Homo sapiens: one gene and its partners. The protein of the gene in region 1 interacts with the protein of each later gene in a pairwise test. Each region holds a gene or a part of one and is shown in the gene's direction. Other genes may lie near its edges.

Region 1 (7,023 bases):
AGCTGGGACCACAGGCCACACGCCACCATGCCCAGCTAATTGTATTTTTTGTACAGATGAGGTTTTGCCTTATTGCCCAGGCTGGTCTCGAACTCCTGGGCTCAAGCGATCCTCCTGCCTCAGCCTCCCAAAGTGCTGGGATTACAGGCATGAGCCACTGTGTCCGGCCAGGGTGAGTACTTTTATTTTTTTCAAGACAAAGTCTCACTATGTCACCCAGGCTGGAGTGCAGTGGCATGATCTCGGCTCACTGCAACCTCCGCCTCCTGGGTTCAAGTGATTCTCCTGCCTCAGCCTCCCAAGTAGCTGGGATTACAGGCATGTGCCACTATGCCTGGCTAATTTTTGTATTTTTAGTAGATTCGGGGTTTCTCCCTGTTGACCAGGCTGGTCTCAAACTCTTGACCTCAGGCCATCCGCCTGCCGCGGCCTCCCAAAGTGCTAGGATTACAGGCGTGAGCCACGGTGCCCAGCCTCGGTGTGAGTACTTTGAACCAGCAGTTCTACTCCCGGGTATATACTTAACAGAAATGAGTATATATGTCCACTAAAAGACATGTAGAATTTGTGTATCAGCTTTAATAATAGCCTCAAACAGGAAGTAATTAAATATTCATCAGCAGTAAAATGGATAAATAAATGGTATTATATTCATACAATGGAATACTGTATGTCAGTCAGAAAGACAATTACTACAACAATATGGAAGAATCTCACAAGGCATTGTAGACTGAAAGAAACCAAACACAAAAGAGTATATACCAAACGATCCATTTACATGAAGTTCAAAAACAGGCATAATTAATCTACAGTGTTAGAAATCAGGATAGTGCTACCTCTGGGGCATGGATATTGATTAGGAAGGATCATTTTAGAGGGCTCAGGTGTGCTGGAAATGTACCATGTCTTGATATGAGCAACAGTTATCCTGGTATGTACATTTTTTAAGATTTTGAGCTGTATACTTAAGGTTTTTATACTTCATTGGATGTATGTTATACTTAAATTTTTTCTAATTAAGAAAAAATATAAATATTATTGAAATAAGTAGACTGTCGGTATAAAAAGAATTGAGTCATCTTACGTTTGGGTAACATTTCATGGTTCCCTGGGCACTTTCACATAGCATGTTAAGAGATACATCATTTGGGTGTATTTCAGGGTAAAGATTCTAATTTATATCATTTGAGCCATAAATGTTATAAATTAATACCAAAATCAGCAACTTTTTATTTTTCTTCAAGTTACTATGTTGGAAATCTCAATATTGCATTACTAATTTCTGTCTTTTAGGCTAAGACATCAAGCACACAAAGAATTTTATGCCTACAAACAGGTGAGAAATTTAATTCAGATTGGCTTTGATTTTTTTTTTCCCCCCAAAAAACTGAGAACTCTGATTTCCACTCATACGTTAAACTGGGACTGAATTTACTTGTGTTCATTTTAGCATCTCACTGCCAATTTGCAGTATAATATATCAACTTCATTTTCTTAAGTATTCTTCTCTTCTTTTTTTTTTTTTTGAGACGGAGTTTCGCTCTTGTTGCCCAGGCTGGAGTGCAATGGCGTGATCTCGGCTCACAGCAACCTCCGCCTTCCAGGTTCAAGCTATTCTCCTGCCTCAGCCTCCCAAGTAGCTGGGATTACAGGCATGCGCCACCACGCCTGGCTAATTTTGTATTTTTAGTAGAGACGGGGTTTCTCCATGTTGGTCAGGCTGGTCTCGAACTCTGGACCTCAGGTGATCCGCCCGCCTCGGCCTCCCAAAGTGCTGGGATTACAGGCGTGAGCCACTGTGCCCAGCTTTTCTCTTCTTTTGTAAGCATTACTTGAAGCTGTAGAAAGTTCAGATGATATAATTTAACAGGAAACTTGAGCCAACAGATTGCTAAAGAGAAATGCTATAGCTTGTAATTCTTAAAGTTACTGTCGACTTAATGGAGTTCTGAGATACCATTAAGTGAAATTTTTCCTTCCTTCTTTATTAGAAGACATAGCAGTTCCTCGGAGGTGAGCGACCAGCTGTGTTACAGTGATCTCATCTACTCCCTTTTGTACTTTAAATGTTAGCTCATATTATCCACTAGAAGTCTGCAAACTTGGATCATAGCTGTCAATACCTAGTCCTTCACTGATTTTGTCTTTAAGTTAATACACTTATCTTTTCTCAAAGGCCAAGTAAAATTATTTTTTTCTTCCAAACAGGGGGCCTAGATTTTCCTTTGGCTCTAAGCATGAAATTCTTAATTTTTGTTACCCTTAGCTTTCTTCTTGGGTACAGGGGAGCTTCAGCTTATTTGAGTCTTTAACCTTGCTGACGCTGATGTTATGGAACTGTAACACTTCAGAACTGCGTATCTTGTTTTTGTTTGTTTTTGAGACGGAGTCTCGCTCTGTCGCCAGGCTGGAGTGCAATGGCAAGATCTCAGCTCAATGCAACCTCCGCCTCCCGGGTTCAAGTGATCTCCTGCCTCAGCCTCCCAAGTAGCTGGGACGACAGCCATCTATCTGCCACAACGCCCAGCTAATTTTTGTATTTTTAGTAGAGACAGGATTTCACCATGTTGGCCAGGATGGTCTTGATCTCTTGACCTCGTGATCCACCCACCTCGGCCTCCCAAAGTGCCAGGATTACAGGTGTGAGCCACCGCGCCCAGCCAGGACTGCTTATCTTTCTGTTCATCTTTCGTCCATGTATGTTTGAAATCTGAGCTCACTGGCACATTCCCTAGATGGACATACTGATGTCCTTAGGTAACCCCACACTCTTACAGGTCTCATGTGGGATCCAAAATCAGAGTTGAGTATTTTAGTTTTCTAAATGAATGAATCTTTTTGTCTCAGTCCTATCATAATCTTTTTTTTTTTTTTTTTTTGACGGGGTCTCTGTCACCCAGACTGGAGTGCAGTGGCATGATCACAGCTCACTGCAGCCTTGACCTCCCTGGGCTCAGGTGATCCTCCCACCTTAGCTGAGTGTGGTGGCATGCATAGCTGGGGCTACAGGCGCACACCACCACCCCCGGCTAATTTTTGTACTTTTTGTAGAGATGGGGTCTCCCCATGTTGCCCAGACTCCTATCATAATCTGTTTTGTTTTGTTTTGTTTTGTTTTGAGACAGGGTCTCGCTTCTGTCACGCAGGCTGGAGTGCAGTGGTGCAATCTCAGCTCACTGCAACCTCTGCCTCCTGGGCTCAGGTGAGCCTCCCAAGTAGCAGGGATTACAGGCGTGCACCACCACACCTGGCTAATTTTTGTATTTTTTGTAGAGACAGGGTTTTGCCATGTTGCCTAGGCTGGTCTTAAACTCCTGGGATCAAGCAGTCCGCCCACCTCGGCCTCCCAAAGTGCTGGGATTGCAGGCATGAGCTACCGTGCCTGGCCACGTATTATAATCTTGACAGCTTACAAGATATTTGTATGTAGGCTAACTAGAAAGTAAAATTGGCCTTTGCAGTCATTTAAGTGAAATTGACTGATAAAACTAGACAAGTCACAAGACATACAGTAAATTTGATCTTTAAAATATACTGGATAGGAAATTTAGTATATCCCTGTGAGGCCTTATAGTAGCTTCTGGTGTGATTTCTGAAAACAGGATTTACCCTCAAATCCATTTTTAGTTCAGGAATGTAAGACACCAAAATTTAGAGATTTTCCCTCAAATTTTACTTGCCTATTTTCTTCACTTTAAGATGAAATATAACTCTAATAAGCTATATTTAGTCTCAGAGTTTTTTCTTAAATAGTAAACTTCCTTCTTATCACTTGGCATTCATTTTAACTACTGTCTGGTCACCACGGAGTCAAAACTTTCAAAATTAAGATTGACTTACTTTTTTTTTTTTTTTTTGAGACGGAGTTTCGCTCTTGTTGCCCAGGCTAGAGTGCAATGGCACGATCTCGGCTCACTGCAACTTCCGCCTCCTGGGTTCAAGTGAATCTCCTGCCTCAGCCTGCCGAGTAGCTGGGATTATAGGCAGGCGCCACCACATCCAGCTAATTTTTGTATTTTTAGTAGAGACAGGGTTTCACTATGTTGACCAGGCTGGTCTCAAACTCCTGACCTCAGGCGACCCACCCGCCTTGGCATCCCAAAGTGCTGGGATTACAGGTGTGAGCCACTATGCTCGGCCAAAATTCCTTTTTTAGGAGAATATTGCATCATTGCTCAAGTTAAAAAAATGTTGCTAAAATGATCTGTCTCAAACTGTAAAAGAAATTCCCTTCAATATTGAATATGAGGGAAATGAGCCATATATACAAAAGAAAAATATTTGAGAATATAATGAGAAATATTTAAAGTTACAGATTTAAATGGGCATAAGAACATACTTTTTTGTCTTACAGGTTATATTAAAAGAGAAAGTAAAAGAATTGAATTTACATGAGGTAAGTTGATGATAAGTAAATCCTCTTGAGCCATTTTCTAGTAGCAGTGGTATGCTGTGGTATGTTTAAACACTTTTATTCTCAGTAGTTGAAAAAAATAGGCTTATTTTGATTGGGGTAATAGAATATTTCAGGGTGAGGTCACATAAAAATCAATTGTGTGAAGGCTTTACGAGAGTAATATAACTCATACTTTTAATAGTGATGACACCATTATAAAATTTCATAGCAGTAGGGATGCTGCTTGCCGTCCATGCTGTATGAATAGGAAACAGATACGTTAGTTTTTCTACTCAAGGTGAGTATGTACTAATTTCCCCATTGAAAATGTTCCCAATATTTCTTTCTTACCAATGGTACAAAAAAGAGAGCAGTTATCTCATGGGGGTAGGGATTGAAGAAGGTAAGACATACGGAACAGGGGAAGAACACACAGGTAGCGATATGAATCCTTGGGATTGTTTAGCTCTTCGGTTGCATGGTTGGGACATAGGTGCTTTGTAACTTAAGTACAAACTTGGGTGTGTATATCCTGCTGTATACATTAAGATACATAGCCTATAAGAATTCTTTTTCATTCTATTTCTTGTGTTGCCTCTGACTACAAACTTTCAGAATTTTTATTTTTTATCACCCTTTCCTTCTCCCTTTCTGGGTTTTCTAATTGGTGTTTAAAGCAAGGACTTGAAAAGCTGTGTGTTGTAATAGCAGTGTCGCATATAGCCTAGCTGTGGTGAAGCTAAATTGCCAGTCTCTTCAAAGAAAGTTAATTTGTTAGGTTTTTTGAATCATAATAAAAATAATCATATTATTGTTAAATATTTTGAAATCATCTATTGGTCCTTTGCTCTTTCTGCATATTTTTCATCAAAGAATTGATATGTTTCTGTTTAATGGCATTTTAGACCTAGCCTTGGATTAAACTGAAGCATTAATTACTGTTTGATTTTTTTTTTTTTTTTTTTTTGAGACGGGGTCTTACTCTGTCATCCAGGCTGGAGTGCAATGGTGCAATCTCCGCTCACTACAAACTCCGCCTCCTGGGCTCAAGCGATTCTCCTGCTTCAGCCTGTCGAGTAGCTAGGATTATAGGCATGCGCCACCACACCCAGCTAATTTTTGTATTTTTAGTAGAGACGGGGTTTCACCATGTTGGCCAGGCTGGTCTTGAACTCCTGACCTCACGTAATCCACCCACCTCGGCCTCCCAAAGTGCTGGGATTACAAGCGTGAGCCACGGCAGCCGGCCACTGTTTGATTTTTTACTTTTCCTAGAAGTTAATTTTGACACATGGCCAAAATTAACATGAAATAATAAAAGTGGTCTGTTTCCCATTTGGAGTCTTTTTGATGACCGTAAATGAAAAGATTAAATTTTTACCAGATTAATCCAGAACAGAAGTCTTCCTTACTGGTGTGACCTGTTAGTTTAGAAACTTTGTCCTGAATAAATACATTGTGTGTTGCATCAGTATGTATCATAGTTAGTATCCAACTACACCCACCAATTCCTGTTTCGCTGGTCATTTGTATCTAGTCTTGGATTTTTTTCACCATAGTATCCCCAGCTTTGGTTATGGTGAGTTGCTTTCTTCATTGAAATTCTTTTGCACCTTTTTCAAAAATCAAATAGCCATATTTTTTGTGACTGTATTTCTGGATTCTCCATTATATTCTCTTGATTTGTGTGCCTGTTTCTTCATCAGTACCACACTGTCTTGATTATTAATAGCTTTATAGTAAATCTTAAAATCAGGCAGTGTGATTCTTCCAACCTCATTCTTTTCCAAAATTGTTTTAGCTAGTCTGGTTCCTTGACCCTTCCATGTAAATTGTAGCATCAGCTCATCTGTATCCACAAAAAAAAAAAAAAAATCCTGCTGGGATTTTGATTTATATTGCATTAACTCTATAAATGTGTTTGGAGAGAATTGACCTTTACCATGGTGAGTCTTCTGACCTGTGAATACATTATGTCTATTTATTTATTTGAAGCTCTGTTGTTAGTTGTATACACATTGAATATCTTCTTGGTGAACTGACCCTTTTGTCAAGGTCTCTCGCCGGGCTGGGTGGCTCACACCTATAATCCCAGCACTTTGGGAGGCCAAGGCAGGAGGATCACCTGTGGTCAGGAGTTCAAGACCAGCCTGGCCAACATGGTGAAACTCCATCTCTACCAAAAATACAAAAATGAGCCAGGCGCGGTGATGGACACCTGTAATCCCAGCTACTCGGAAGGCTAAGGTAGGAGAATCACTTGAACCTGGAGGCAGAGGTTGCAGTGAGCTGAGATCGTGCCATTGCACGCCAGCATGGGCAACAAGAATGAAACACTATCTCAAAAAAAAAAAAAAACTGTCTTCATCCCAGGTAAATTCCTTTGCTTTGAAATATTTGTCCAGGCCAGGCGCGGTGGCTCACGCCTGTAATCCCAGCACTTTGGGAGGCCGAGGCAGGCGGATCACAGGGTCAGGAGATCGAGACCATCCTGGCTAACATGGTGAAACCCCGTCTCTACTAAAAATACAAAAAAATTAGCCGGGCGTGGTGGTGGGTGCCTGTAGTCCCAGCTACTCAGGAGGCTGAGGCAGGAGAATGGCATGAACCTGGGAGGCGGAGCTTGC
Region 2 (7,515 bases), on another chromosome or scaffold:
TCAGCAGGGCACATTTTCTGGTGAACGAGCCTTCGTTGGTTAACCCTGCAGAAAGTAACTTCTGCTTCTGGCTGCACCCACCTCTCCACTGTTTCCAAACAGATATTCTCCAAATTAGCTCCTTTTGGGATTCCTACATCTGCTTTATCTACCCAGAGCTGTACCAAGAAGAAATCTCAACCCCCAAAACTCTGGGGACTCCCTGTCTGCAAACCTAGTCCAATAATTCTGAACACACTTGGCAGCTTTTACAGGGACTAGGCACAGAATCCTCCCAAATCCTGGACCACTGAGGGCCTCTCCCACTCCATTCCTGCCTGTAGAAGCTGAGTTCTCACCAACTGCCTGCTCCCTGCTGTCCTGCCACACATGACAGCTTCATTGTCCACTGTTGCTGCCGGAAAATAACCGTTTTCCTTAAATATCTGCATCAGAGACAGCAGAGGCGATGACAATGGGTGAGTGAATCCAAAATTTAAGGACAGAGAGGTTTATTTCACTGAAACAAAGATTCCCTAAAACGAAGCAGGTGGATTATTCAGTGCTTGCTGGAGAGCATTGAAGAGAGGCTCCAAGGCCGGGCACAGTGGCTCATGCCTGCAATCCCAACACTTTGGGAGGTTGATGTGGGTGGATCACTTGAGGTCAGGAGTTAAGAGACCAGCCTGGCCAACAAGGCAAAACCCTGTGTCTACTAAAAATACAAAAATTAGCCAGGTGTGGTGGTGGGCACCTGTAATCCCAGCTACTTGGGAGGCTGAGGCTGTAGTGAGCCGAGATCACACCACCGCACTCCAGCCTGGGTGACAGAGTGAGACTCCGTCTCTAAAAAAAAAAAAAAAAGGCTGCAGGTGGGAGATGGCCTTGGGTGCGGGGAAAACAAGTACATAATTCCCAGAGGACAGTGAGATTCACCCAACAAGCCAAAGTGTGAGAGCTGATGGGTAGGGCTTTGGTGCTCCACCTTCCCGGTCAATTCCAAAGCCCCCCTTTTTTGAATAAGGACTTTAGCCAAGGCTCTTCCTGATGCCTTGCCCCAGTTCTTTCCTAAAAATGTAGATTGGAGGAGAACTCAACAATGTACTCAAAGGTCAGACAAATCTCTGCTTAGATGTTTTGAAGGGTTTGTAAAAACCTTTAAATAATATTCTGGAATGCCTGTTAGCCTCCAAGATCATTAGAATGACTCCTCATAAATTCTACTTTCCTCAGTGGCTTAAGTGAGGGTTTGGTTACCTAAGTTAAAAAGATACCAGCTTAACCGGGTGAATATACAAACCCACAAATTAGTAAGCTATGCAGATCAACTTCCTAAGACAATTCAGAAGGAAGAAAAAAACTAAGGTCTCAAAGATTATGAATTTGCAACTACAAGAACTGACTAACCAAATGAGGCCTTTTAAGAAAAGACAGGGCCTCCTTCTAATGACAAAAGGGCTGTTTGCTTCTACTGTAAAAAGCCTGGCCATTTCAAAAAAGATTGTAGAAAATTTAACAGCAGGACCAGTGAAAAACCAGGATCCCACATGATGAACAGGATTGCTCTGATGATCGAAGGGAGGTGTTCCTATTTCTACTAATGCCTTAGGAGAAATGGACATTGCCATAAATGAAGAACAGACACATGCCCTCAAAGACACTGGTGCCACTCTTTTCGTCCACTTTAAGTTGTCTCCTTCCTTGGAGTAATGGAACTGTACAAACGGTAGGGTTATCTCATCAGCCTATCACTGGATACAAGTCCAAGCCCTTAGAATCCCAGGGCCCTCATTCTTTTCTTCATTCCCCCACCTCTCAGACATCTCTTAGGCAGACATTTTGTGTTGGAACGTCACAATGCATGCTTTCCTTCTCCCAAAAGGAAGAAATGGATTTAGGTTTAGAATGGAAGGAGCAAATGGAAAAACTACAGAATGAGAAATTACTGAAATTATAAAAATACAGATCAAACAACTTTTTTTTCAACTGGCACTAATGACACGGATGGCTTAGGGCAAGCTTTGTCAGACCACTTATGGTCAGAGTCTTCCACCGACATTAGTAAAATATATTCAGCCACTTTCATTAAAGTGGAAGTAAACCTGATTAATCCTTTACCCAATATCAGACAATATCCTCTAAGGCCTGAAGCAAATGAAGGAATAAGATCCGTAACAAAAGACTATATTAAAAGGGGTCTAATTATTCCTTGCGCCAGCATGTAATACTCCAATCCTTCTTGTAAGGAAGCCGAATGGGAAGAGCTGGTATTCTGTACAAGATTTGAGAACCGTCATCAACACTGTGATCCCCAGACATCTGGTAGTACCAAAGCCCCATCCTCTTTCGGCAGCTGGAAGTGAGACACTGTGACTCATTTATGTAGTGCCTTCTTTAGTATTCCAGTGGACCTAGAGTCAGTATTTGTTTGCTTTTACTTGGGATGACTGCGAGCATATCTGGCCTATCAGGAAATATTGCTGATGAAACTGCTGCCTCCATCACAGCCCAACAAAAAGCTACTGACTCACTGGCTAAGGCTGCACTGGACGACTGCATTGCTTTCGATTATTAGCTGAGCAAGCAAGTCTATGTATGGTGGCAAATACCTCTTGATGTGCATAAACCCTTTCCACGAAGTAGAAACTCATATGGGAAAAAGTACAAGCCACTAGGCTACACTATTCTGAACAATTCTCCATTTGATTTTCTTCGTAATACTTTTAGTTGACTCCCTCGAATAGGTTCCGTTTTTCATTCTGGCATACACATTCTCTTTTTCATTGTAATCCTTATGTGCACCGTACTTGGTAACATTTTTGTTTTAATAGAGATGGAGTCTTTCTGTGTTGCCAGGTTGGTCTTGAACTATCAGGCTCAAGTGACCCTCCTGCCTTGGGCTCCCCAAATGCTGGGATTACACACAAGAACCACTGCCTGGCCAGCACTACAGTTCTACTATCGAAATTATTAATGCTATGCTATGTATCTCTGGCGGTTTTTTTTTTTTTTTTTTTGAGACAGGGTCTCACACTGTTGCCCAGGCTGGAGGGTAGTGGCCTGATCATGGCTCACTGTAGCCCCTACCTCCTGGGCTCAAGGAATCCTCCCACAGCAGGTGCCACCATACCCAGCTAAGTTTTTTGTATTTTTTTAGGGGAGAGAAAGCGTTTCGCCATATTGCCCAGACTGGTCTCCAACTCCTGGGCTCCAGCGATCCTCCTGCCTCGGCCTCCCAAAGTGCTGAGATGAAAGACATGCGCCCCACACTGGCCTCTGGATGTTTGTTACTCCTGAGAAAACTAAAATCATGGCACTCCAAAGACTAGAGACGATTCAACAGGCAAGAGCAGGGATGAAATGCACGCAGCGACTGAGGTCTGGCTTCGCGGCTCTGTGACCCCGGTTCAGCTTCTGAGCGCCTGGTTCCTTGGCGGGACGCCTCCTCCTTTCCCGCAAGACCAGACACGACTGTCTGGGAAGCAGCGTTTCTGGGGCGCACCTTGACACTTGGATTTGGATCAACAATGCTTTCAAGAAGAAAGACTTTTGATCAAAAGCGGGAAATGAGAAAGCGACTTTCCTCTGAAAAGTGCCTCCCAGTCCCGAGGCTGCGAGGCCCCCACGCCAGGCTGGCTCCCACGGAAGCCGGGCACCCACCCGGCCCGACCAAGCGCCACTCCGCCCCGTGGACGGGGCGTCCCACCCCGGGGACGCCCGCCCCACACCGCGTTTGCACCCCGGAGGCCCCTTGCCGCAGAGGCGGACGGCGCGCCTCTCCCGGGCCCCTGGGGTCCGCGCCTCCCTCGGGCAGACTCTTTCGACTCTGCTCGAGCCTCCGCTTCTTCCTGCGGGCGGACGCCCCGGACACAACGGGCCCCGCTGTTCACGCAGGGGCGCCCCGGCGGGGCGGGCAAAGACCCGGGGACGCGGTCCCGTCCCGAGACGCTCAGCTCCGGCCCACCGCTCGCAGCTCCCGCCCCGGGCGCAGGTCCCGACCCCACGGGCCGTCTCGGAGCCGCAGCGGCCGCTTCCCTGCACGTCCTCACGCCCCCCGCACGGACGCCGCCAGCCCCGCGCCTCAGTTTCCCCACTAGCAGGATGGAAAGACGGGCCCCGCCCCGAAGCGTAGCGGCGTCTCCGTGGTAGCCAGTGCCCAGAGAGTCCGCCGGTCCCACCGCCCCTTCAAAGGAGAACCCGGCCCACCGCCCGCCGCGGCGGCGACCGCGCAGCCCACTCGTCACGCGGCCCGCGGCGTCCAGCCCGGGCCGGCTCACCTCAGGCGGTCGCTGCCGCCCTCGCGCCTGCGCGCCCCTCGCCCCGCCCCTCTCCCCGCCCGCGTCCCGCGCACCGCAGGCCTCTGCCCCTCGCCCACCGCAGGACCCGCCCCGCGCACGCGCCGCACGTGCCACACGCACCCCACGCCCCTGCGCACGCGCAGGCCCCAAGTCGCGGCCAATGGGCGACGCGGCCGCAGATCCGCCCGGCCCCGCCCTGCCCTGTGAGTTCCTCCGGCCGGGCTGCGGGGCTCCGCTCAGTCCGGGAGCGCAGCTGGGCCGCGGCGCTCCGACCTCCGCTTTCCCACCGCCCGCAGCTGAAGCACATCCCGCAGCCCGGCGCGGACTCCGATCGCCGCAGTTGCCCTCTGGCGCCATGTCGCAGAACGGAGCGCCCGGGATGCAGGAGGAGAGCCTGCAGGGTGAGGCGGAGGAGGCGGCGCGGGAGCCGAGGGGGCGCGGGGGGGAAGCCTGGGGAAGGCCAAGAGGGCGCCAAGGGGAGGTTGCCGGGGAGGCCTAGGGGGCATCGCGGGCCGGGCGAGGCTGCGCCATCCTCCCCTTCCGTACCCACCCCTCCTGCGGGCATGCGGAGCCCGGGGCGTGGGGACCCCGCGTACTGCCCGGGGTTCGCGGCCTCGCCACTCGGGCGGGGGTTGGCTTGGACCCGGGTCGGACCGCACGGGAAAGCCCCGATTCTCCAGCTCCGCGCGAGCTAGAATTCCACCTGGAGGTGAATCTGCGTCTCGCAGTTGGACCGAACAGCCTCAAAGTCCACGTTGCCCTCCGCGGTCTGTAGTTCAGACCAGTATTGGTTTTAATGACCAAACACCAAGGCGTGGCAAGTGGCCTGTTATGAGCTTTAATTTTGTTATTAATGTTTATATCCATGGTGACTGTTAGGATTTCCTCAAGGGTGAACGCGGAGATGGGAGGGGGTTACAGCGTTTTTAAAATATGGCATTAAATGGGCATGTTCCAATTTCACTAGAGGGTCGTTCCAAAACAAAGCTTTAAATGACTTACGGGTTAAGAAAACACAAGCAAAAGGACGCTGCCCGTGCAGCACTCAGTCGTTACAGCCTGCCTAATGCCCGAGTAGAGGCTCGCTGTGTGCCCTTGGCTAGATTCGCAAGACCATCCGTTCACGCAGCGGGAAACGCAGGCCCGGGGTGCAGGACTTGCCCCACGCACAGCCGGGTGGCGTGGAGACCCACCCCACCCGGTGGGTCCGCGTCAGAGTCCAGACGAGCCTTTGCTCAGGGAAGCGGGCACTGAAGCCGCCTTCCCAGGGTCCCTAGGGCCAAAGCCTCGGAGGAGGGACCTGGTGGCAGCTGACCTTTGTGTTCTTTGAAGCCAGAGTTTACTAAGCAAAATTAGCATGTAAATAAGCTTGGGAAAGGACTGCTGAAACCTCTGACAGTGAACTTTTAATCTTCATTGAGAGTTTTTAAAACCATATATTCACATAAATTTAGTGAGTTGCTAATTTTATTACAAAAAAAAAGATTTTACTAGGCAGGACTTAGTTACCGTAATATATTGAATAATATATATATATACATATGAACACTACAAGCTTTTTTTTTTTACCTTTTTTTTTTTTTAAGAGACGGGGTCTCACTGTGTTGCCCAGGCTGGTCTGAACTGGGCTCAAGCGATCCTCCCGCCTCGGCCTCCCAAAGTGCTGGGATTATAGGCCTGAGCCACCAGGCGCGCCTGGCCTAAAACCATATTCTTTAAAATCCTGTAATTCGGATTTTTCCTCTTGAAATTTAAACATTGGCTAATTACTATTTTGAAATAGATTAAGAGGTGTTTTCCTATCTTTTGTCATAAAATAAAGTCCAAGGGATGTTTTTATAAACTCTTTGCCATAAAATCACCCATTTTCCGGTTGTGAAGCCGCGTTACTCCTGACATTGTGCGTTTCACTGTCCGGCTGGGATCTGGGCGCTGGGAGGTGGAGGGGGCTCCGGGGGGCTCGGTCCTCTCTCCAATATGTAACTTACACAGGCTGCTGAGTCATTGGCAGTGCAAGGCGGCCAGCGCCGGAGTTACGAGATTTTTGTTTTTCTGTTTTGTTTATTCTATAAAAAGATAGTTACCCGCGGGGTGGATCCCATGTAGGCGATTCCTTGGGCCGCCCTGAGTGTCCGCGCGGCAGGACGGGGCCACTGTGGGCTCGGCGTGGGCGGGGTTGGCCGGTCCCGCGGGCTCCAGCTGCCTGCAAATCCGGGACGGAGCGGTGGCTCAGGCAGCGCTCACCTCTGCCTGTCCGATTTCACTGCCCCTTGTTGACCTCGGAACAGAGAACAATGGGAGCCTTGCAGCCAGACCCACGGATGGAAGCAGCAAGCACTCTCTCCTCTGAGTGTACCCTCTGGGGCCAACTGCTTTTCCTAAAGAGTTAATGGCAAAATGGGCTGATTCTGTTCCTTTCTATCTCTTGATCATTCTAGCTAAAGTTGTTGACTCGCAGGATGCTCGTATTTGTCCTTTTCCTTTTTTTTACAAGCCCAGTCTTACTCCCCCAGGCTGGAGTGCAGTAGCACAATCATTATAGCTCACTGTAGCCATGAACTTGGCCCTTTTCTCCTAGACATGTCACTGCTAACATGCAGGAGAGGTAGGATTCTGTGACGAGACCGTGTCACGGTGGCGGGGGCATCACTTCCTTGAAGGACCCACTGTCTTCACCAGGAGGGCATCAGTTCAGTAAAGTGCATGCCCATTTACTCTGGAGGGCCGTGTTTAATAATCCAAGCCCTCACCTCTTCACCCACTGCTGTGTCTGCAACTGGCAGATGGTTCTCTCTCTTGTCAGAGGCAACTCACCATGGGCAAAGTTGTATGAGGGGAAAAGATGTTTTCTACTTATTTTGGAGTGGAGTTGTAGCATTGTGTGCTTTGAGACCTGAAGGGGTTGCAGACATCGAGATTCTCGTCCAAGACTTGCATTTCATAGATGGTCACAATGAGGTTCTAGAGGTGGAGTGAAAGATAAGGCTGGCAACAACACTTAAGGAGAAGCCAAGGTCTCTGCATGAGGCAGCAGTGGGATACCTGGAGCCCAGATGCCTGAGGCTGCGTGCAATAGGCCCTGGAGGGTCCTGGAGGAGAGGAGGCCAGAGGTCCTGGAGGCAACAGGAAGGTGGAGGGAAACGAGCCCCGTTGGAAGCCAGGGACCTGATTTACCTACCCAGCTGACTTGATACTTGAAATCTTTTGTCAGGCGGGTCTCTTTTGTTCTCTCCCCACT
Region 3 (7,247 bases), on another chromosome or scaffold:
AGAAGAGGTGCGCCCGGGAGACTGGCAGGCTCAGCGGGGCTTCTGCATGTTGTCCGAGGGAGGGATGGCTCAAGAAAAAGCGAGAAGGAGAGATGAGAAAGCAAGCTTCCTCTAATTCCTGATCTTGCATCGGCTTGGCTTTCATGGCTGAAGCTGAATTCTGGACACCTGTTCCCATTTCTAAGGGCTAGTACGGGGGAGGTCATTTTTAAGATTCGACTCTATTTTGGATTTTGTCACATCCCCAGGATGATGTCCTTTGTGAACCCGGGAGAGTTGTGACCAGATGTAGGCTCTGGGGGAGGGCCTGCATCAGAGGCTGGGGTAGGGGGATGCATATTGGAGAACTCGTCACTTTCTGGGGGGCTGAGCCTTTATCTTCAGGCTCCATCTGAGCCAGAGCCAGTGGCAAGGGCTTGGGGAGGAGGTGGAATGTGAGACCACAGAGTACCACCGGGCATCACTGCATCCACCGACAAGGGCTGCCTCCTCCTCTCAAGAGATGATGCCAGCTGGTGCCTGCTCCATCCCCTACCAGATCAAGCCAGGTTGGGATTTGTAAAAAGGGGGTAGTAGCTGAGAAATGTAAATGAAAATGCAATAGCAGAATGTCCTTTAAGGAGCAGAGCTGTGTAACTGCATGATCACTTATTTATTCTTGAAGACAGGCACGACAGGGTCAGGCAGGCAGCCAAGCCTCAGACCCTGCTGCTGCCAGGGAACTGGGGCCACGCCACGTCCCCCTCCTCATCCCGAGCCTCACCTCGTTACTGAGACCAATGAGAGAAGGTGGCATGTCATCCTCAACTCCTGCCCCTAGCAACATGCTCCTTGCTAGCTGCATGAAGATTTGGACAAGTCATTAAATTCTTGAGTCTCAGTTCCCTCATCTGGAAAATGGGTATATTAACCACCATCTTATGGAACTTTCAAGAAAGACAAATGAGAAAATGGATGAAAATCACTTTGAAAACTCAAATTCACTTCCAAATGTGAGGAAGTGGAAGTGGTGATGTTGCAAAGGCTCCCTGGCCACCTGCAGGGGCCTGATGTGGGAAGAGGGAGAAGGTTTTCCAGGACCCCTCCTTTACTAGCTCTACAGCCTTTGCTGGAAGACATCACCAGGGCCCGTGCCATCCCTGAGGTGTCCCTCCCCTGCCACTTCTATGCCTCCAGCCCAGGGAGTAACTGCACTACCCCACACTTTTCTCATCATGGCAGGGTCATGAGACTGCCATGGGTCGAGGACTAGCACCAGCCTTCCCGGCGTTGTCCCTATGAAGGTCCCTCTCCAGAAGGATGAGTTGTGGACAGCGCCTCTGGGCTTAGCTCCAGTACCCAGAGAATCAGGCCCGGAGGGCCCAGTATCATGAGCGTTTAATTCTCCTGAGCTCACAGGTGGGTTCCATGGCTGGGGGTGGGGGCAGGAAGGGGCATCCCCAGTTGCTATTTTATACACCTGCGGGAGTGGTTTAGCACCACAATTTGAGATGACAGTAGAAGTCTTTCATATAAAGCATATTAACAGTATACTAATAATAACATTAATAACAATAGTAATTATTATAACTATACAGTAACAGGAATAACAGTGGTTCATTAAGTGCTTACTATGTGCCAGGTACCTGGTTCTATGCACTTCACATGCATTTACTCATGAATCCTCATCCTCTATGTCAGTCATAGGTACTATAATTATCCAAGAAGCTGAGGCACAGAAAGGATAAATAAAATGCCCAAGGCTTCACGAAGCCAGGATGAAGCTCTTAACCTACGAGTGATTTCAACAGGGATGATTCTGGCCCCTAGGGGCATTTGGTTGTCTCAATCATAAGGGTGCAAAACTCTTGCTGGCATTTCGAGACTGCAATGCACAGGACAGATTTCCAAAACAAAGAATTGTCCCATATCCTGTACTACTTTCGAATGTACAACTGAACTAAACCCACTACCAGTAAAAGTTGGTCATACTTCAATTGACAGTAATACCAAAAGGTTTTGTAAGCTTTTAAAAATAAATTTCATGAACACTCAGAAAGTTAGGAGATGGTTATTATGGAGCAGAAGCTTAAAAGGAATAAAGACATTGTCTTAAAATTATTGAATAATCTACTCCATGCATTGTCTACACAAAGGATTATAAGATTTCAGCTACTATGTATTTGATTGAAAACAGTTCTGATCAGTAGGTGATACTGAATAAACGAAGAAATTGACTGAAAATATTTAACAGAGGATATGTGAGAGAAGCAAACATGGAATCAGAGACACTTGAGATGCAGAAGATCTCACTGAGTTTCCTTAATAAAAGTTTTTAGGGTTTATTTCATATTATTGCCATCCTTTATATGTTTAGTTTTTTTGGAGCCCAAGGATGCTATGTTGTCATAATTATGTGTGGAAATGTTGTGTCCTGTCTTTACAACACTGTCCCGGGTGTCCACATGCAATTGCTCTAAACCACTTTTATCTTCTTTTCTTTTCCCAATCCATCCTCTATCCCCCATTGCCCATTGGAAATATGTGATCTCTAAGGCCTTTTAAGATCCCAGAGACTGAATTTTACCTCAACGCTGATATGTTTCAAGACAGAGGTTGATGTGTCTGTGGTACTCTATGGCGACCCCATTCCATGGGAGCTATTTTGACAATACACACATACCTAAGACTGAGTTCCTTTGCATGCACATCATACTTCTATATTATCTCCACCTTGTGCTCTCTAATTTGCCTTGCTATGTTATCCCTATTTCAATTAAGATGCTTTCCCTCTCATCATATGCAAGTACGTCTGGTCTGTTATTCCTTATCTAACAGTTTTTATTCTATGTTCACTTCCTGCTACTCTTTCATTTTCTTGCATGTGTGTGATTTTTGTTTTTGCATAGAATGGCTCATCTTCTATTTCTCTTAAATTCAAACATATATTATGTGTGGGTGCAAGCAATCTGCCTATTTCATTTATGTCTTCTGGTAAGTCTTGCCTGAACATTTATATATTGAAAGACATCATGTTTTATTATAATTTATCTTTTTGTTTCTTTTTAAAAAATTATGTTAGCTTTCCTTGGTTTTGTTGTTGTTGTTTGGTTTGTTTTTTTTTGAGACAGGATCTCGCTCTGCTACCCAGGCTGGAGTGCATGGCTTGATCACAGCTCATCGCAGCCTCGACCTTCTGGGCTCAAGCAATCCTCCTACCTTAGCCTCCCCAGTAGCTGGGACTACAGGCAGGTACCACCACATCCGGCTAATTTTTTATTTTTATTATTGTAGAGACAAGGTCTCACTATGTTGCTCAGGCTGGTCTCAAACTCCTGGGCTCAAGCAATCCTCCTGCCTTGGCCTCCCAAAATGCTGGGATTACAGACATAATGCATTTTGTATGCCAGGCCTATTTGCATTTTTAAATGATGTATATAGGTAGTCTTTGAAATTCATTTCTTCATTTCTGGACACAGAAGACATTGCAAAGTGGATGTTGGCTCTCCTGGCATCAATGCCACGTCAGAACCACTGCTCTGCGATGGGAAAAAAGGATGTTAGGAACTAACTGCCTCTCTTTTTGCAGGCCCAAAGGACGAATCCATGTCTACACAGCTGGTGGGTAGACTAGAACCAGGCCTCCTAAATTGTGCAGTCCTGCCCCAACCCCAAATTCAGGGCTTTGTCTTCCATAGCTCAACATCACAGTCAGTCCAAAGCTTGGACGCCGCTTGGGGAAAGGAGGTCGAAGACCTTCACGTCTAACTTCCCCCATGGCGCTTTTGCCATTGATTTAACCCGATCTGGCTCTGCCATTAGGTCAACAACAGGCTTTGTGCTCAGTCGCTCATCGCCTCCCAGCGCCTAGCATGTGCAATAGCAGAGAGCAAAAAGCTTGACTTTCAAGATGAATTTAGTACATTCCCAAAGGGATGCGCAGATGCCAACTCTTCCCACACTATCAAACCAAGCAAGAAACTTGAGCACCCCCTAGATTCCAATGCTTCCACATACAATCTAAGTTTCGCGGAGCAGACGAGAGCCGCAGAACACCGCGAGGTGCGAGGAAAGGGTCAGGTGGGCGGTGCCTTCCCCGGGCAGGCGCGGCAGGTGGAGGGGCGGGGCATTGCCCTACCGGAAAACGGGAGGAGGGAGCTGGCGAGTAGAAGCACCTGCGTGGTGTGCGGGGGTGGAGCGGGGGCTGGAGGGAGAGTTAATGATTTGCCACAGGCTCATTTCGCAACTTAACCAAGGGTCAGCTTCCCGTGACCATGTACCAGCTGCGTCCTCTGGGCCACGCTCCACTTGCCCGCTTCCACCCGGAAAGCCCCCCAGGCTGAGTGCGGCATGATCTCCATCACCGAATGGCAGAGTAAGTGGGATGAGCGGGGCTGCAATGGGCTATCCAGGCCAGGCTCCCTGCCGGCTGGCTCTCTCTCCCAGCTGGGCTCTCTGTCACTACAAGCGTGACCTCTGGAGCCAGGGGCTGGGAGATGCTGTGCTGGCACCCTGGGGCAGCAGGCAGGGTGGGGTGTGGCTCCCTACCCTCCAGCGGGTGGGAGTTGCTCAGGGCCCACAGGTAGCTAGAGGCTGGTGCCCAGGGGGCCTGGCAGGTTCCCCATTCACACTGACCCCTTTCCCATCCCGGGTTCTTAGAACTGGGTTGCCACAAAGGTGGACTCAGGAGGCCTCTGCCCATTCAGACATCTTTCCCCACACCATCAAGGTCTCCTGTGGCCCTGGGGGCTTCTTATAAAAAACTAAACTCCACTCCCCTGACCAAACCACCATACCCTCACTCCTAAACATCCTTCCCCTTCTTTTGGGGGAAGAGGTAGGGAGGAGGTCTTGGAACAAGTCTGGGGCCATGGGAAGAACCGTGGCTCTGTGGGCTTCATTTGGGTGAGTTACTTAAAGCCTCTGAGCCTTGGTTTTTCATCTGAGAATTGGTGACAACATTCTTTTGTTCACTCAACAGATTTGTCTCTGCTGTGTGCCAAGCACTGTGTTGGATATAGAGTGTCCAACATTAAATGAAACTGACTCCCTGCTTACATTCTAGAGAGGGGAGACAGGTAATTAACAGAAAGAAGTATATAGTATATCAGAAGATGATAAGTCCTCCAGATGAAAATAAAACAAGAGGAGGCTATGGAGTTCGAGGTAGGAGGGGTCGCTATTTTATATAGAGTGGTCAGGGAAGCCTCACTGAGAAGGTGAGCCTTTATTCAGATCTTTTTTCAGAGATCTATAGGAAGTGAGGAAGCAAAGCCACGCAGCTCTCTGGAGGGGAAATGTTCAGGAAGCAGGGACAGGCAGTGCAAAGGCCCTGAGGCATTAGCATACTTGGTGTGTTTGAAGAACAACAAGGAGGTGGGTATACCTGGAGCAAAGTGAGGTGAGGGGAGAATCATAGGAGTTTAGGTCAGGGATGTCACTGAGGGGTCAGGACACTGGAGACTTATAGACCATGGTAATGACCTTGGTTTTGTGCTATGGTGTGATATGTTCTATTTCTATGTTTAAAAGATCATTCTGGGTGCTGGGTTGAGAATAGACTGTGGAGGTATGAAGGCAGCAGCAGGGAAGCCAGTTCTTTTTTTTTTTTTTTTTTTTTGAGACAGAGTCTCACTCTGTCGCTCAGGTTGGAGTACAGTGGCATGATCTCTGCTCACTGCAACCTCCACCTCCTGGGTTCAAGCGATTCTCCTGCCTCAGCCTCCTAAGTAGCTGGGGTTACGGGCACCCACCACCACACCTGGCTAATTTTTGTATTTTTAGTAGAGATGGGGTTTCTCCACGTTTACCAGGTTGGTCTCGAACTCCTGACTTCTCAAGTGATCCACCTGCCTGAGCCTCCCAAAGTGCTGGGATTACAGGCGTGAGCCACCGCGCCCAGCCAGGGAAGCCAGTCCTGAGTGTGTGAAGGTGGAGACCAAGGTGTTAGCAGGAGATTAGCGGGGCGTGGTCCATGCTGGATCTGCCTTGAGGAAAGCGTTGAGGATTTGCTGACGGTTTGGACATAGGGTGTGAGAGAAAGAGGAGTCAAGAATGCCTTGTATATTTTTTAGCCTGTGCAATGGGAAGGGTTGAGTGGGGGGAAGCAGGAATTGGGCTTTAGATGTGTTGAGTCTGTTTGTGCTGTTAGACATCCGGGTGAGATGTCAGGTAGGTGGTTGGGTATGTGAGTCTGGAGTTCCAGGTAGAGGCCTGGGCTGGAGACAGAAATGTGGGAATAATCTGCATATACATGGTTTTTAGGACTATGAGCATCCATGAGATCACCGAGGGCAGGCACAGTTTCTCACCTCCCCACTATTGACATTTTGGGGCAGGATAATTCTTTGTTGTGGGGGCCTGTCCTGTACATTATAGGATATCAGCAGCATCCCTGGCCTCTATCCACTACATGCCAGTAGCACCCCCACTCCAAGTTGTGACAATAAAAAATGTCTTCAAACATTGCCAGATGTCCCCTGGGAAACAAATTTCCATCCCGCACCCCGCTTCCCCACCCACAATCCCCTCAGCCCAGTTGAGAATCATGGACCTGGCGAATAAAAATATAGAGAGAGGTGGGTTGGGTCCTCAACCCAGTGGCACGCTGACACTTTGTTAAACCAATTAGCCTGCAAGTAATATACTCTTACCAAATATGATAAGCAAGTCCTGTGAGAGAGAGAAATGAGGGATTTAGGTCAGGGAAGAGAGTGGACCAGCTTTCCCTGAGCAACTGACATTTCAGCTGAGACCTGAATGATGAGGATGCATTGTCAAGTAACAAGTGAGAGGCAGGGTGTTGCAGACCAGGAAACTGCATGTACGAAGGCCCTGAGTCAAGAGGGCTCACATGGAAGCCATGGAGAACAGTGTGGTTGGAGCATGGCAGGCAATAGGGACAGTGGCAGGAGATGAGGTGGGCAGGCAGGCCTGGGCCCCACCAGGCAGGGCCTGTGAGCTGTGGTGTGGATGAGAAGGCTCTGCTGCAGTCTAATCTCAGTGGGCAGCCGTGAAGGAGTCTAGGCAGTATGCTAACATGATCAGGTTGTATGTTTTGCAAGACCTTTGAGCGCCGTGTGGAGAAGGACTGGGAGGGTGCAGGAATAAAGCAGGAGGCCAAATGGGGGCTGCTGCATACGTCCAGGAAAGAGATGATCGTGGCCGGGAATTAGGTGTTAAGAATGGAGAGAAATGGACAGCTTTCAACATGTATCTTGGAAGAAGAAAAGAAAACTTAGCTGTGGATTTCATGGGGGAGGGGTGGG

Evidence for each region.
Region 2: the proteins of RNF24 (region 1) and BNIP3 interact in binary tests that used the Homo sapiens proteins (3 or more experiments, as listed by UniProt).
Region 3: the proteins of RNF24 (region 1) and GOLT1A interact in binary tests that used the Homo sapiens proteins (3 or more experiments, as listed by UniProt).

What each region holds. Positions count from the first base shown.
Region 1 is NC_000020.11:3,942,550-3,949,572, reverse strand, and holds part of RNF24 (RING finger protein 24), read left to right. Parts: intron 1-1,293; coding exon 1,294-1,336; intron 1,337-4,354; coding exon 4,355-4,396; intron 4,397-7,023. UniProt on the Homo sapiens protein: May play a role in TRPCs intracellular trafficking.
Region 2 is NC_000010.11:131,978,924-131,986,438, reverse strand, and holds the start of BNIP3 (BCL2/adenovirus E1B 19 kDa protein-interacting protein 3), read left to right. Parts: upstream 1-4,515; 5' UTR 4,516-4,632; coding exon 4,633-4,678; intron 4,679-7,515. UniProt on the Homo sapiens protein: Apoptosis-inducing protein that can overcome BCL2 suppression. May play a role in repartitioning calcium between the two major intracellular calcium stores in association with BCL2.
Region 3 is NC_000001.11:204,210,989-204,218,235, reverse strand, and holds the start of GOLT1A (vesicle transport protein GOT1A), read left to right. Parts: upstream 1-4,247; 5' UTR 4,248-4,329; coding exon 4,330-4,354; intron 4,355-7,247. UniProt on the Homo sapiens protein: May be involved in fusion of ER-derived transport vesicles with the Golgi complex.